4 linked regions of the Homo sapiens genome follow. The protein of the gene in region 1 purifies or fractionates together with the protein of each later gene. This does not show direct contact. Each region holds a gene or a part of one and is shown in the gene's direction. Other genes may lie near its edges.

Region 1 (2,536 bases):
AATGGGCCTGCCAAGTCGCAGGGCAGTGGGAATGAAGCCGAGCCACTGGGAAAGGGCAACAGCCGCCACGAACACAGAAGACAGCCGCACAACGGCTTCCGGCCCAAAAACAAAGGCGGTGCCAAAAATCAAGAGGCTTCCTTGGGGATGAAGACCCCCGAGGCCCCGGCCCATTCTGAAAAGCCCCGGCGAAGGCAGCACGCTGCAGACACCTCGGAGGCCAGGCCCTTCCGGGGTAGTGTCGGTAGGGTTTCACAGTGCAATCTCTGCCCCACGAGAATAGAAGTTTCCACAGATGCAGCAGTTCTCTCAGTCCCGGCTGTGACGTTGGTGGCCTGAGCTAGGAGGAAAAAGAGCAGTTTTCACTCAGTTTTGGTTCCCTGCCCGAGGTGCTGACCCAATTCGCTGCCAAAAGAGTGTCAATCAGAATATACAAATCCCGTATGGTTGTGTCATCCTCTCTTAATCATTTTTACTAATTCTAATAATCAGCTCTAGCTTGCTTCATAATTTTCATGGCTTTGCTTGATCTGTTGATGCTTTCTCTCATCAAGACTTTGCAGCATTTTAGCCAGGCAGTATTTACTCATTATTAGGAAAATCAAGATGTGGCTGAAGATCAGAGGCTCAGTTAGCAACCTGTGTTGTAGCAGTGATGTCAGTCCATTGATTGTCTTTAGAGAGTTAATGTTACAAAAAAGAATTCTTAATAATCAGACAAACATGATCTGCTGAGGACACATGCGCTTTTGTAGAATTTAACATCTGGTGTTTTTCTGAAAAAATATATATACATATATTGCTTTATTTGAAACAAATTAAAATATGCTGCATTTGACACCTGGCTAGTTTCTTTTATTGATACCCACCTAGTTATTGAATGTACTGTTTAGTGCTTTCAAAAAAAACTTTAGAGACTAGAGGTTGTGGTGCAAAGCTGTGTACAATAAATACTGTTTCTGTTGAGACAAGTACTCTTTCAGGAAAATATATATATGCCCTTTCAATTAGATTACACAAATAGATGGATATGCACCCTGATCATCTTAGACACACCATGTGGCAGTTGGGCAGTTGGAAACATTGGTTGCAAGTACTACAAACCTCAGCTGAGCCTAGCTTCAACAATAAGAATTTATTGGTTCAGTGAGTGAAAAGTCCAGTTGGTCCAATTTGATCAGGATTTCAGCTCCCATCTCTTTTTTTTTTTTCTTTTTTCTTTTTCTTTTTTTGAGACAGTCTTGCTTTGTCACCCAGGTGGAGTGCAATGGCATGATCTCGGCTCACTGCAACCTCCGCCTCCTGGGTTCAAGCCATTCTCCTGCCCGGCCTTCCGAGTAGCTGGGATTACAGGCATGTGCCACCACGCCCTGCTAATTTTTATATTATTAGTACAGACAGGATTTCACCATGTTGTCCAGGCTGGTCTCAAACCCCTGACCTCAGGTGATCCACCTGCTTTGGCCTCCGAAACTGCCGGAATTACAGGCATGAGCCACCGTACCCGGCCAGCTCCCATCTCTTAATTATCTTAGCTCTCCTTTCCTCCTTGGGTTGACATTGCATTCAGAATTGTGGCAAAGGGCCACCATGCTCTTAAGACTCAAGTCTATTTTCCACACTGTCCAGAGGAGAGAAGTTATCCTAGTAGCTTCTACACAGAGCAAGTGTCTTTCTCAGAAATCCCAGCAAAGGTCTTGCATACCATTGCTGGTAGGCCTGTCTCTTAAACCAATCATGAAAGGGGGGAGAGAAGTGAATGGGATGAACTAATTTGCATAGACTAATTAGAGCCCACCCCTGGAGCCTGGGTGTGGCCATCTTCCCAGAGTTCCTGAGCTAGATGGAGAAGGGGTACTTCTCAGAAAGGGAAAATGGATACCCAATGGCCCAAACCCAAAATAGCCCCAGTTCCCCTAACTTTGACTACAGGGCAGTCCAGTTTGGGTGCCGCTTCCGTTGCACTCACATGTCCTACATATCTGTTGACTACTCACAAGTGCAAATGCTTATTCTCAACTCAACATTAACATTTTTTCTGGCAACCCAGGTTCACTGGTTCTCTTCCACAGAGCGGCCCTGAGCAGCTGAGCCTGCAAGCCACGCAAGCATCTGTTTCTTCTTTTGCCAAGTACAGGAGGATGTTTGCTCTCTCTGTAGAGAGCTTTCTGAGGTCTCTGGGTGTACCCAGAGATTTAATAGAAATTCTTAACGTTAAGTCACATTCCAGGAAGGAAGGAAGAGTTGTTCGTTCAAATAAGAAAGATAAATGTTCGGCACTGTAGGCCCTGTTTACCCCATCTGAGGCCCTGAATTCATATATTACAAGACGGAAGGATTTTGCACAGTTTTTTATGTAGCAAGATTTTGCTCACCACTGAAAAATGTCAGTGTAAATGTGACCGCTTTAAAGATGAGTCAAGTAATTCTTGGAACAGGGAAAAAAATGAATTTGCCAGGTCAGGAGTTCACCTGCCTTTGTCAGAGTTGAACCCAACCACTCTTGACCTCGACTCACTCCCTTAGGGTTAAGAAA
Region 2 (3,500 bases), on another chromosome or scaffold:
CGCCCAGCCTGGAGTGCAGTGGCACAAACTCCGCTCACCGCAACCTCCACCTCCCAGGTTCAAGTGATTCTCGTGCCTCAGCCCCCCCGAGTAGCTGTGATTACAGGTGTGCACCACCACGCCCAGCTAATTTTTGTGTTTTTAGTAGAGACAGGGTTTCACCATGTTGGCCAGGCTGGTTTCAAACTCCTGACCTCAAGCAATCCACCCCCTTCGGCCTCCCAAAGTGGTGGGATTACAGGTGTGAGCCGCCGTGCCTGGCCTCCACTCTTTTTAGACACCTTTGTTGAGTTGTTGTTTTGGGCCTGTAAGTTTCTCTGGCTTATTACCACTTTCCCCTCCTGTTTCTAGGGAAGAAATGATTATTTAGATAAAAAATAATTTGATAAAAGGTAGCAGATGATACCAAAGGTAAATCTTTGTCTTGAAGAGCCTGAAGCTGTGAGCATTGGTAAAGCCGTGGGCTGCAGTGAGGGAAGGGCCGGCTTGGAGCCGCCCTCAGCCTAGCCTCCGGGTGTTACCTGGAGCCCTTGCTGTCAGGACGGCCTGTCACTTCTCGCCCTTCTCCTGCCCTGCCAAGCCTGTCCCTTCCTGTGTTGTGACAACTTTTTTTTTTAAACAAGTATTTCTACAGCTCCATTATTTTGAGATTCTTGGAAGAAAGATACTATGTAAATGAAAATTAAAAATAAAATTCTCGCTGGAGGGAATCGTATACATGTAACGTTTTTGATGAGGTTTGGAAAAGACTTTCGTTCTCCCTCTGGAACTGGGAACATTCTGTGGCTCCCGTCACCATTTCTGTGTCACTCTGAAAGGTGTGGCAGATAATGGTGAAACATATTATTTTCTGTTTTTCACCAAGTAGTTGACCCAGAACTTGAACCCATGCAGTCCTGGGTCCAGTGAATTATTTCTGCTGCATACAGTTCTGCTGTGTCCTCGCCGAGAGCGTAGTCAGCAACCGCCCGGAGAATACCAACCTTTCAAAAGAAAAAGGGCTGGAGTCCCCAACATACAGAGATTACAGCTAAAATTACGACCAGAGCTGTTAATCAAATCCCATCTTCCCTTCCTATTCACACAGTAGAGATGTTATAAGTCATACAGGTTTGAGACAGAAAATTGAGAGCAGAGGAGCATGTGTTTAAACCAGCATAGAAACATTCATTTACCAGAATTGCTTTATTTCAGCCGTATCTCAACTCGTTGCTTACACAGTAACGCATGCTGTCTCGTCACTCAGCCAAGTGGGAGACAAGTTCAGGTTTCTGCTCCATGGGATCCAGGAGCCTGCAGTCACCGATGAGCCTGGAGGACCACAAGGTGGCCAGGGCCCTTGGAGAGCTGTGCTGCGGAATCGTAAAGCTACCATCCGGAGCTGGCCGTCCCAGAGGGAAGGCTTGGTCATCTCTTCCCCTCCACCTGGTCCTCAGCCCTGGTCCCGCAGTTTGTCATCCCGCAGTTTGTCAGCATCGATGTGGGACTGGGAGAGGAAGGATATTGCCAGTTATGGTTGAATGTCATTGTCAGGGGAGTAAGAAGTAGTTTGTGATTGTTTTACGTGGCTCTGTGTTGGTATATAATTATGCTGTCATCTTAAAACGCCCTGATACCTTAATGAAATCTGTGTGTGTGTGTGTGTGTGTGTGTGTGTGTGTGTGTGTGTGTGTGCGCGCGCGCGCGCAGTTAGTCTTCGGGGCTGCTTATTGTGTGTGAGAGCCAAGTCTTTCTAACACACGAGCTGAGTGCGTCGTCTTTTACTTGTTTCAAAACTGCCCATTCGAAACAGGTCGCAATCCATTATAAATGCAGCTGCCAGATTAATCTTCCCGAACCATTGATTTCATCATGCCATTCCTCTCCTTAAACATCCATGGTGGCCCACTTAGGCACAGAGTGGAGACCACATTTCTTAGGGTAGCAGACAGAGTTCCTGATAGTCCTTTCTGCCCCACCTAAACCTTTTCCATCCCAGCTAGAATGACTCCAGAATCTTGCTTATTTGGGGGAGCTCCCTCCTCCTCCCTCTGTACATCTGAGCTTCAAGCCTACTTCAGAATTTTTTTGTTTTTTTTTGTTTTTGATTTTTTGAGGCAGGGTCTTGCTCTGTTGCCGGCTGGAGTGCAGTGGTGAGATCATAGTTCACTGAAGCCTTGACCTCCCGGGCTCAAGCAATCCTTCCACCTCAGCCTCCCGGGTAGCTGGGACTATAGGCATGCACCACCACGCCTGGCTGATTTTTCCATTTTTTTTTTTAGAGACAGGGTTTTGCCCTGTTCCCCAGGCTGGTCTTGAGCTCCTGGGCTCCAGTAATCCTCCCTCCTTGGTCTCCTAAAGTACTGGGATTATAGAGGTGAACCACTGCGCCCGGCCTTCAAGCCTATTTCATGCATTCCTTTTTCTTTTGCCCCTGTGTGCCCGGCAGTAGTGATGGAGACTTAAAATAGCAGTGGCTTCCCGCCTAGAGGGCGGACAGGACTGGCAGGACGAGGCTGGGATGGATGGAGCAGTGTGTCTGAGCCTCTGGGAAGGCTGCAGGAAGGGCTTGGAAGGCGGGTCGGGGAGTGGGCAGGGGGCGCCCACTGAGTTCTGTGTGCTTGGGGAGGTGTGGGAGACAGGGCTTTCCAGCAGAACAGTCGTGGGGTGGCCGGGGATCTCTAGGGCTCCCCTCTGAGCTTGGGTTCCCTCCCTCTGCCCTGATTATCCCTTGGGTACCCACCACACCATCGCCACACAGGCCCCCACTCTCTGCCTTGTGTGTCCGATTTAGGACTCATTCAGCTGGTTAAGAATGCAAAATTAATTCTTTTTTTTAATATAGTGAAAGCAGGTAGATTATATTAAAATGGCTGTGTTTTGAAAGCTACTGATAGGTACACCTATGGAATAGATGTTTCTTTTTCAGTCCCATTAATTATCTTTCTGTGCAAAGTAACATAAGTGTTACTTTTTCAGTCCCATTAATTATCTTTCTTTGCAAAGTAACATAAGTGTTGGTTAAAATACAGTTGACCCTTGAACAACATGGGGATTAGGGGCTGATCCCTTCTGCTGTTCCCCCTACCCCACCTGCACAGTCAAAAATCCACGTATAACTTTTTTTCTCCCCTCCCCTCCTTCTCTTCTCTTCTCTTCTCTTCTCTTCTCTTCTCTTCTCTTCTCTTCTTTTCTTTTCTTTTCCTTTCCCTTCCTTTTCAGACGGGGTCTCATTCTGTCACCCAGGTTAGAGTGCAGTGACATAATCATAGCTGACTGCAGCCTGGACATCCGGGGCTCAAGCAGTCCTCCCACATCAGCCTCCCAGTAGCTGGAACTACAGACACTCACCAGCATGCCTGGCTAATTTTTAATTTTTTTCTTTTTTTAGAGACAGGGTCTTGCTTTGTTGCCCAGGCTGGTCTTGAGCTCCTGGGTTCAAGTAATCTTCCTGTCCCAGCCTCCTAAAGAGCTGAGATTATAGGCATGAGCCACCAGGCCCACATAAAACTTTTCATTCC
Region 3 (3,500 bases), on another chromosome or scaffold:
TGCTCCTCGAACCCCTGGGCTCAAGCCGTCCTTCTGCCTCAGCCTTCCAGAGTGCTAGGATTATAGGCATGAGCCACTGCACCTGGTGCAAAATTCTCATAATGCAAATATTTAAGGCTTTTGATATATACTGATAAGTCATCCCTCTGGAGAGGCTGTCTGAAGTGGTGCTCCCACCTACCATGTCTGGAAGTTTCTATTTTATTACCATCCAAGGTGGTGAATGTCTTATGATTATTGACCATTGGTATCTGTAAATTTCTTGTTTGATATTTTTTTCGGCGTGTTCACCTTCTAGTTTTTTTGTTTTCGAAAGAACCCTTGCGCTGGAAAGGATGGTAACTGACTCTTTGCCTTATTTGCAGCATACGCTGCCTTTTTTGTGTGTGGTGCTTTTTTGAGTCTGGAGAGGCTTGGCAGCCGCTGGTTCAGGGTCTCTGGTTACTGTGTTGCCCACTGGCATCCGCTGCCACCTCCTCTGTAACTTGGAAACAGCTTTCTGCTGAAAGCCTGGAAGCCCCTCATCACACACATGCAGGCCCTGGCCAGGCCAGATGTCCAGCAACAGGAAGGTGGAGGGAGAAGCTGTGGTGCATCCACGAGTGGGAACACTGCTGGCAGCGAGCAGCAGGCGCCTCGCCCACACGAAGCACAGCTGTTGACGCTGAGCTCGGGGGACGGAGCAGGCAAAGATGTGCGGACAGGAAATGGATTGGCAGCTGCCAGGGGCTGGGGGTCGAGGGGAATGCGGAGCTTCCTTATGGGGTGATGAGAAGTCCTAAAATTGATTGTGTTGATGGTCACACAACTCTGTGAACAGACTAAAAACCACTGAATCGTACACTTTAAATGGGTGAATTTAATGGCATATGAGTTATATATCCATAAAGCTGTTTTTAAAAAGAAGGTTGACACAAAAGTGTATGTATGATATGGTTCCATTTATATCAAGTTCTAGGACAGGCAAAAGTAATCTATGATAATAGAAGTTAAACAGTTGGGGCGGGGCAGATTGGCTGGAGACGGTGATAGAAATGTTCTTTGTGTTTTTAGTGGCGCTTACTTGGGTATATGCAGTTGTCAAAACTCATCAAACTGGGAAAAAATGCATTCTAATTTAAAAAAAAAAACACATGGGCACTTATGTCTTCCCTTTTTTTTCTTTTGCTACGATTTGAAAAAGGCTATTTTTCTTTTCTGTTTTTCTCAGTTAATGGTTCTAAAGTGATTTCTTTGCTGGGTTATCTCCCCTTAACTCCCTCTCCATTGACAAGGATCCCAGCCAGCCCTCACCCCACCCCCACCAGCTAGCAGCTCCACCACACCTGTGGCCAGCTCGCCTTGGGAAACCACCCATGCCATCATCGTGCATATGATCTAATGGCTTTAGAGAACTAGGAACAGAGTTATTCCCCAACAAACTGACTGGGAACCTGTTCTGATGAGTATTTTAATTTGTGTGATAAACAATCATTTTGAGAGGCTGGGGTTTGCCATTTCCCCTTCCAAGAGGAAGTGCCTTTACGCATTTGAAACTTGACATGCCATGAAGGTATTTTTGGAGGGCAGGGGACATTTGGGAAGTCATGCAGATTACCTAAGGCAAGTGATACTTGCGTTTATGGTGCGTGGGGAATCTGTAGGCACAGAAATGAGACTCAGCAGCAGAGGACAGACAGCACCTGCCTGCCTTCTGGTGGAAACTCAGTGGTGACGGGAGCTTTGCTCATTGCCTTTTTCTTGTGGGGGTAGGAGCTGGTCAGGCTCACCATCGAGAAGCAGGGACGTCCGTCTCCGACGAGCCCCGTGAAGCCCAGTTCCCCTGCCAGCAAGCCTGATGGGTAGGTGCTGACTAACCCTCGTGTCGCGGGTGTCACGCTCAGTGGCAAAGTCTGCACTTGACAAGGATAGGGCCCGGTGGGGTGGGCAGCATGAGGGTGGGCTGCTGGAGGCCCATATTCCTTTTTCAGTGGTTAGCAGTGTGTGTATATTTCACACAGGCTTGAAGTATTGCCCTGTCTCAAGTTTACCCTTCAGCATGACTGTTTCCAAGGATCTTCTGTGAGCGCATCCAGTGACACATACCAGTGCTTTTCCTGGGCAGCTTCGTTTCATAATGACAAAGAACTTTTAAAGGCTTGGGTTTGGGTGCTTTGACTTGAGAGCACTCTTGTTTGATCAAGAGTAAACTGAGGATGACATGGATGGTTGTAAAGGTTTATATTCATCTCTACTCCAAGCTCCTGGTAAAAATATAAAACATAAATTTGGAGCTTTTTTTTTTGTTTTTGAGACAGAGTCTCTGTGGCTCAGGCTGGAGTGCAGTGGTGCGATCTGGGCTCATTGCAGCCTCCTCCTCTCAGATTAGAGCAATTCTCTTGCCTCAGCCTTTCAAGTAGTTGGGACTACAGGTGCACGCCACCATGCCCAGCTAATTTTTGTATTTTTAGTAGAGACAGGGTTTCACCATCTTGGCCAAGCTGGTCTCAAACTCCTAACCTCAAGTGATCTGCCCGCCTTGACCTCCCAAAGTGCTGGGATTATAGGTGTGAGCCACTGCGCCCGGCCTGGAGCATTTTAGAGAACCCTTAGATCATTTTCAGATGAGGAAATTGAGGTGCAAAGTTGGGGGCACAGCCAAGCTCCAGTAGCTCATTAGCAACCAAACCAGAACCCCAGGGTTCTATATCCAGGGAGCCTGCTCTTCAGCCCCACCTCACCCACTGTGTTCTTCCTGGTCACGTCCTCACCCTCTCAGGGCCTGTGTGTGCTCTGTCCCGCCTTTGACCTTCTGTAACCCCAAGTTCTTCCCAATTCTCCAGCCCAGCAGAGCTCCCCCTGACAGACCGCGAGGTAGAGATCCTAAACAAGACGACTGGGATGTCACAGTCAACTGAGCTCCTCCCAGATGCCACGGATGAAGAGGTCGCGCCCCCCAAGCCTCCTCTGCCTGGCATTCGGGTGGTTGATAATAGGTAATTACCTTCCTATTTGTCCAGTGCCTCCCATGGCAGAATGAGAAAGAAAGGGAGGAAGACAGGGCTCGGGCCCTTTCCCCTCAGCGCTGAGGGCTTGGCCCCCCTTGGGAGGCTGACTCTGGAGCTGTCCCCACCCCGCCGGCCCTCGCTGGCCACCCTGAGCTCTCCTGAAGGCCTCCTTGTGCCCTCAGCCCAGGGAGACATGGTATGATTTATTATGAAAGAAAAAGAAAGGGTTGTTCTTTTTTGTTCATTTGGTATTTACAGGTTTTATTTTGGCGGAGGGGAGTAGGCAGGAGTTGAAGTGTGAACATTGGGTGTGGAGAGTCTAGTAATGAAAGAACCCCACATCCTGTACCCCAATATCACGCTGAAGAGCTTTGGTGAGTGTGGTTTGGTCTGCCTGGACGTTTCGGTCTGTTTCAGTCCTCCACCAGCATTGCCACCCAAGAAAAGACAGTCGGCGCCGTCCCCTACCCGAGTGGCTGTGGTGGCCCCCATGAGCCGAGCCACCAGTGGCTC
Region 4 (3,500 bases), on another chromosome or scaffold:
TGAGACCTCCTGCTCCCCACAGACGCCACCCAACGTGGAGAAGGCCCTGCGCCTCTTCGGGCAGCTGCTGCACAGCCGCGCGTTCGTGCTTACCTTCATCCACACGCTGGAGGCCCAGAGCAGCTTCTCCATGCGCGACCGCGGCACCGTGGCCTCGCTCACCATGGTGGCCCTGCAGAGCCGGCTCGACTATGCCACGGGGCTGCTCAAGCAACTGCTGGCCGACCTCATCGAGAAGAACCTCGAGAGCAAGAACCACCCCAAGCTGCTGCTACGCAGGTACCTGCCTTGCTCTATCCAGGCCACACCTTTGTCCTGCCTGGGCCTGCCCCCTGTCCAAGCCCCACCCCTGCCAGGCCCGAGCCCCCTTCTCTTGCCCTAGGACAGAGTCAGTGGCTGAGAAGATGCTTACCAACTGGTTCACGTTCCTGCTGCATAAGTTTCTGAAGGTGCGCCAGGTGGGTGGGCGGCAGGGAGGTGGTGGCAGAGGACCGGCCAGTGGTCAGGCAGGCAGCCAGCTGTGCACCTGTCCCTGGCTGCAGGAGTGTGCTGGGGAGCCTCTCTTCCTGCTTTACTGTGCCATCAAGCAGCAGATGGAGAAGGGCCCCATTGATGCCATCACGGGCGAGGCACGATACTCCCTGAGCGAGGACAAGCTCATCCGTCAGCAGATCGACTACAAGACACTGGTGAGCGCAGGGCCAGGCGGGCCAGAGGTAGGGGTGCAGAGAGAGGCCTCGCCCCAGACTGACACTGGAGTCCGCTTTCCCCTCAGACCCTTCACTGCGTGTGTCCGGAGAACGAGGGCAGCGCCCAGGTCCCAGTGAAGGTTCTCAACTGTGACAGCATCACCCAGGCCAAAGATAAGCTGCTGGACACTGTGTACAAGGGCATTCCGTACTCCCAGCGTCCCAAAGCTGAGGACATGGACCTGGGTGAGGTCCCCACCCTCTCCTCCTGGCTCCCACTCATACCCTCCTGTGCCGTGTGACCTCCGTGGGCTCTCCCGCTCCCCACCTGAACCCTGTTTCCAAAGAGGAGTGGGCCAGGCACTTGGGGGCTGCCAGCATAATCTTAAGGGCTGTCTGTGGCCCACAGAGTGGCGCCAGGGCCGCATGACTCGCATCATCCTCCAGGATGAGGATGTCACCACCAAGATCGAGTGTGACTGGAAGAGGCTCAACTCACTGGCCCACTACCAGGTGAGGGGTTGGGGCCCATTCCTCCCCAGGGCCACCTGGGAGCCAGGACCCTGCCTTGAGCTGCAGCAGGACACGGGAGCAGTGGCCCTGGCTCCCCTCGCCCTTCTCCCTGGGCTCGTGGGCTCCCCTCCTGGGTGTGGGTGGGTGGGGGCGCCTTGGCTTCTCAGCTTCCTGCACTGCCCCCCTCTGTCTCTGGGGCCTCCAGGTGACAGACGGTTCCTTGGTGGCATTGGTGCCCAAACAAGTGTCTGCCTATAACATGGCCAACTCCTTCACCTTCACCCGCTCCCTCAGCCGCTACGGTAGGTGTCCTCAGTGTGGTGGCCATGTGCCCTTCGAGGGAACCCCCACTTCCAAGTGCCATCGATTCTGTAGAGTGTAGACGGAGGGTCGGCCAGCGAGGGCAGATGGGTCCCCACATGCTGCTGAGCTCCCGGGAGAGTGGGGCAGGGGCCAGGTGGTGGCCTAAGGGTCACATGCATTCTCTGCTCCAGAGAGCTTGCTCCGCACGGCCAGCAGCCCTGATAGCCTCCGCTCACGGGCACCCATGATTACGCCTGACCAGGAGACAGGCACCAAATTGTGGCACCTGGTGAAAAACCACGACCATGCCGACCATCGCGAGGGGGACCGTGGCAGCAAGATGGTCTCCGAGATCTACCTGACACGGCTGCTGGCCACCAAGGTATGGGCCTGCCTCTCGCCACCTTGGCCTCCGCCCAGAGGTTGTCCCGGCCTTACAGGGGAGGGGCCATGGATCATTTGCTTCCAGTGGGCCTTTCTTCGGGTCTTTGCTGTGGGAACTCTGAGCCTTAGATAAAGGCCATGTCTGTCTGAGAGACCACTGGCCCTGTAGGGAAGCCCCTCTCTTTGCCAAGCCTTTCTGCCTCCATCTGTCCTGCTCTGGGGACATCCCAACCTGGCTCCCTCATAGCCTGTGACCTCTCTGCCCCACACAGGGCACACTGCAGAAGTTCGTGGATGACCTCTTTGAGACAGTGTTCAGCACAGCCCACCGGGGCTCGGCCCTGCCCCTGGCCATCAAGTACATGTTCGACTTCCTGGATGAGCAGGCGGACCAGCGCCAGATCAGCGACCCCGATGTGCGCCACACCTGGAAGAGCAACTGGTATCACCCCGTGCTGGGCTGCCAGCAGCCTGTCTGGAGACTGGTGGGCGGAAGACGCTGGTGGCTCTGCTGAGACCCAGGGCCTGGAGTAGCATCCAGGCAGGAGGGAATGAGGCCTGGCCTGGGGTTGACACTGACGGTGCCATCAAGCCAAGGGGCCTGTTGCGTCCAGTTCTGGAGCTGGACTGCCTGGGTGGGTGGGATGGTGGTGGTGAGGCCTTTGCCCTCTGGGGTCTTGCACCAGGTAGAGATGCTGGTGGTCGGTCGCAGGTGGTGAGAGCGGTGACAGGAGAAGCTGCGGAGGGGGTTGAGCCCTATTGAGAACAGAAGTTCAGCAGAGACTTAGAGGAAAGGCCGTTCACCCTAAATGTGTTGCTCTCACCACCTCTGGACAAGATGTGAGCCGGCCCGACAGGAAAGAGATGTGCACATGGGAGGGGCCCCTTGGGGCTAACTAGGGAGCCTCAGGCGCACGTCCCTCTGTTGTCCACAGCCTGCCGCTGCGCTTCTGGGTGAATGTGATCAAGAACCCGCAGTTCGTGTTCGACATCCACAAGAACAGCATCACGGATGCCTGCCTGTCGGTGGTAGCCCAGACCTTCATGGACTCCTGCTCTACATCCGAGCACCGCCTGGGGAAGGACTCGCCCTCCAACAAACTGCTCTACGCCAAGGACATCCCCAACTACAAGAGCTGGGTGGAGAGGTGGGCTCCGCCCTGCTGTGGGTGGCAGAGGGCAGGACCTGCCCCTCCCTGGGCTGCCTGTGCGAGGCAGGCCAGCTACAGGCAGGAAGCCCGGGGGCTGGCTGGGCAGTGAGGGCAGGGGTTCTAGTTTTTGTGATGTCGCCTGAGTGACATACTCAGGGTCCCAACAGGTATTATCGAGACATTGCAAAGATGGCATCCATCAGCGACCAGGACATGGATGCCTACCTGGTGGAGCAGTCCCGCCTCCACGCCAGCGACTTCAGCGTCCTGAGTGCGCTCAACGAGCTGTATTTCTATGTCACCAAGTACCGCCAGGAGGTGTGTGTCATCCCCACAGACTCCCAGTTACTTGGTCCTGAAGGTGCAGCCAGTGACAAAGGCAGGAGGGTTGGTGGGGGTTGGGGATTGTTCACGGTCTCTCCCCTGACCAGGGCCTGGGGCCGGCACAGGTGATGCTCTC

Evidence for each region. The genes of interacting proteins can lie anywhere in the genome.
Region 2: the proteins of SPATS2L (region 1) and CUX1 purify together in Homo sapiens (affinity purification with mass spectrometry, with the first as the bait; one large-scale study listed by BioGRID). This does not show direct contact.
Region 3: the proteins of SPATS2L (region 1) and RAPGEF1 purify together in Homo sapiens (affinity purification with mass spectrometry; one large-scale study listed by BioGRID and IntAct). This does not show direct contact.
Region 4: the proteins of SPATS2L (region 1) and PLXNA3 purify together in Homo sapiens (affinity purification with mass spectrometry; one large-scale study listed by BioGRID and IntAct). This does not show direct contact.

The regions. Positions count from the first base shown.
Region 1 is NC_000002.12:200,477,693-200,480,228, forward strand, and holds part of SPATS2L (SPATS2-like protein), read left to right. Parts: coding exon 1-339; 3' UTR 340-2,536.
Region 2 is NC_000007.14:101,824,126-101,827,625, forward strand, and holds part of CUX1 (Homeobox protein cut-like 1), read left to right. Parts: intron 1-3,500. UniProt on the Homo sapiens protein: May be involved in intra-Golgi retrograde transport.
Region 3 is NC_000009.12:131,628,577-131,632,076, reverse strand, and holds part of RAPGEF1 (rap guanine nucleotide exchange factor 1), read left to right. Parts: intron 1-1,752; coding exon 1,753-1,841; intron 1,842-2,822; coding exon 2,823-2,975; intron 2,976-3,404; coding exon 3,405-3,500. UniProt on the Homo sapiens protein: Guanine nucleotide-releasing protein that binds to SH3 domain of CRK and GRB2/ASH. Transduces signals from CRK to activate RAS. Involved in cell branching and adhesion mediated by BCAR1-CRK-RAPGEF1 signaling and activation of RAP1.
Region 4 is NC_000023.11:154,468,281-154,471,780, forward strand, and holds part of PLXNA3 (plexin-A3 precursor), read left to right. Parts: intron 1-22; coding exon 23-279; intron 280-382; coding exon 383-449; intron 450-542; coding exon 543-689; intron 690-775; coding exon 776-935; intron 936-1,098; coding exon 1,099-1,202; intron 1,203-1,407; coding exon 1,408-1,504; intron 1,505-1,696; coding exon 1,697-1,887; intron 1,888-2,161; coding exon 2,162-2,331; intron 2,332-2,601; exon of another isoform or gene 2,602-2,729; intron 2,730-2,824; coding exon 2,825-3,037; intron 3,038-3,207; coding exon 3,208-3,358; intron 3,359-3,500. UniProt on the Homo sapiens protein: Coreceptor for SEMA3A and SEMA3F. Necessary for signaling by class 3 semaphorins and subsequent remodeling of the cytoskeleton. Plays a role in axon guidance in the developing nervous system.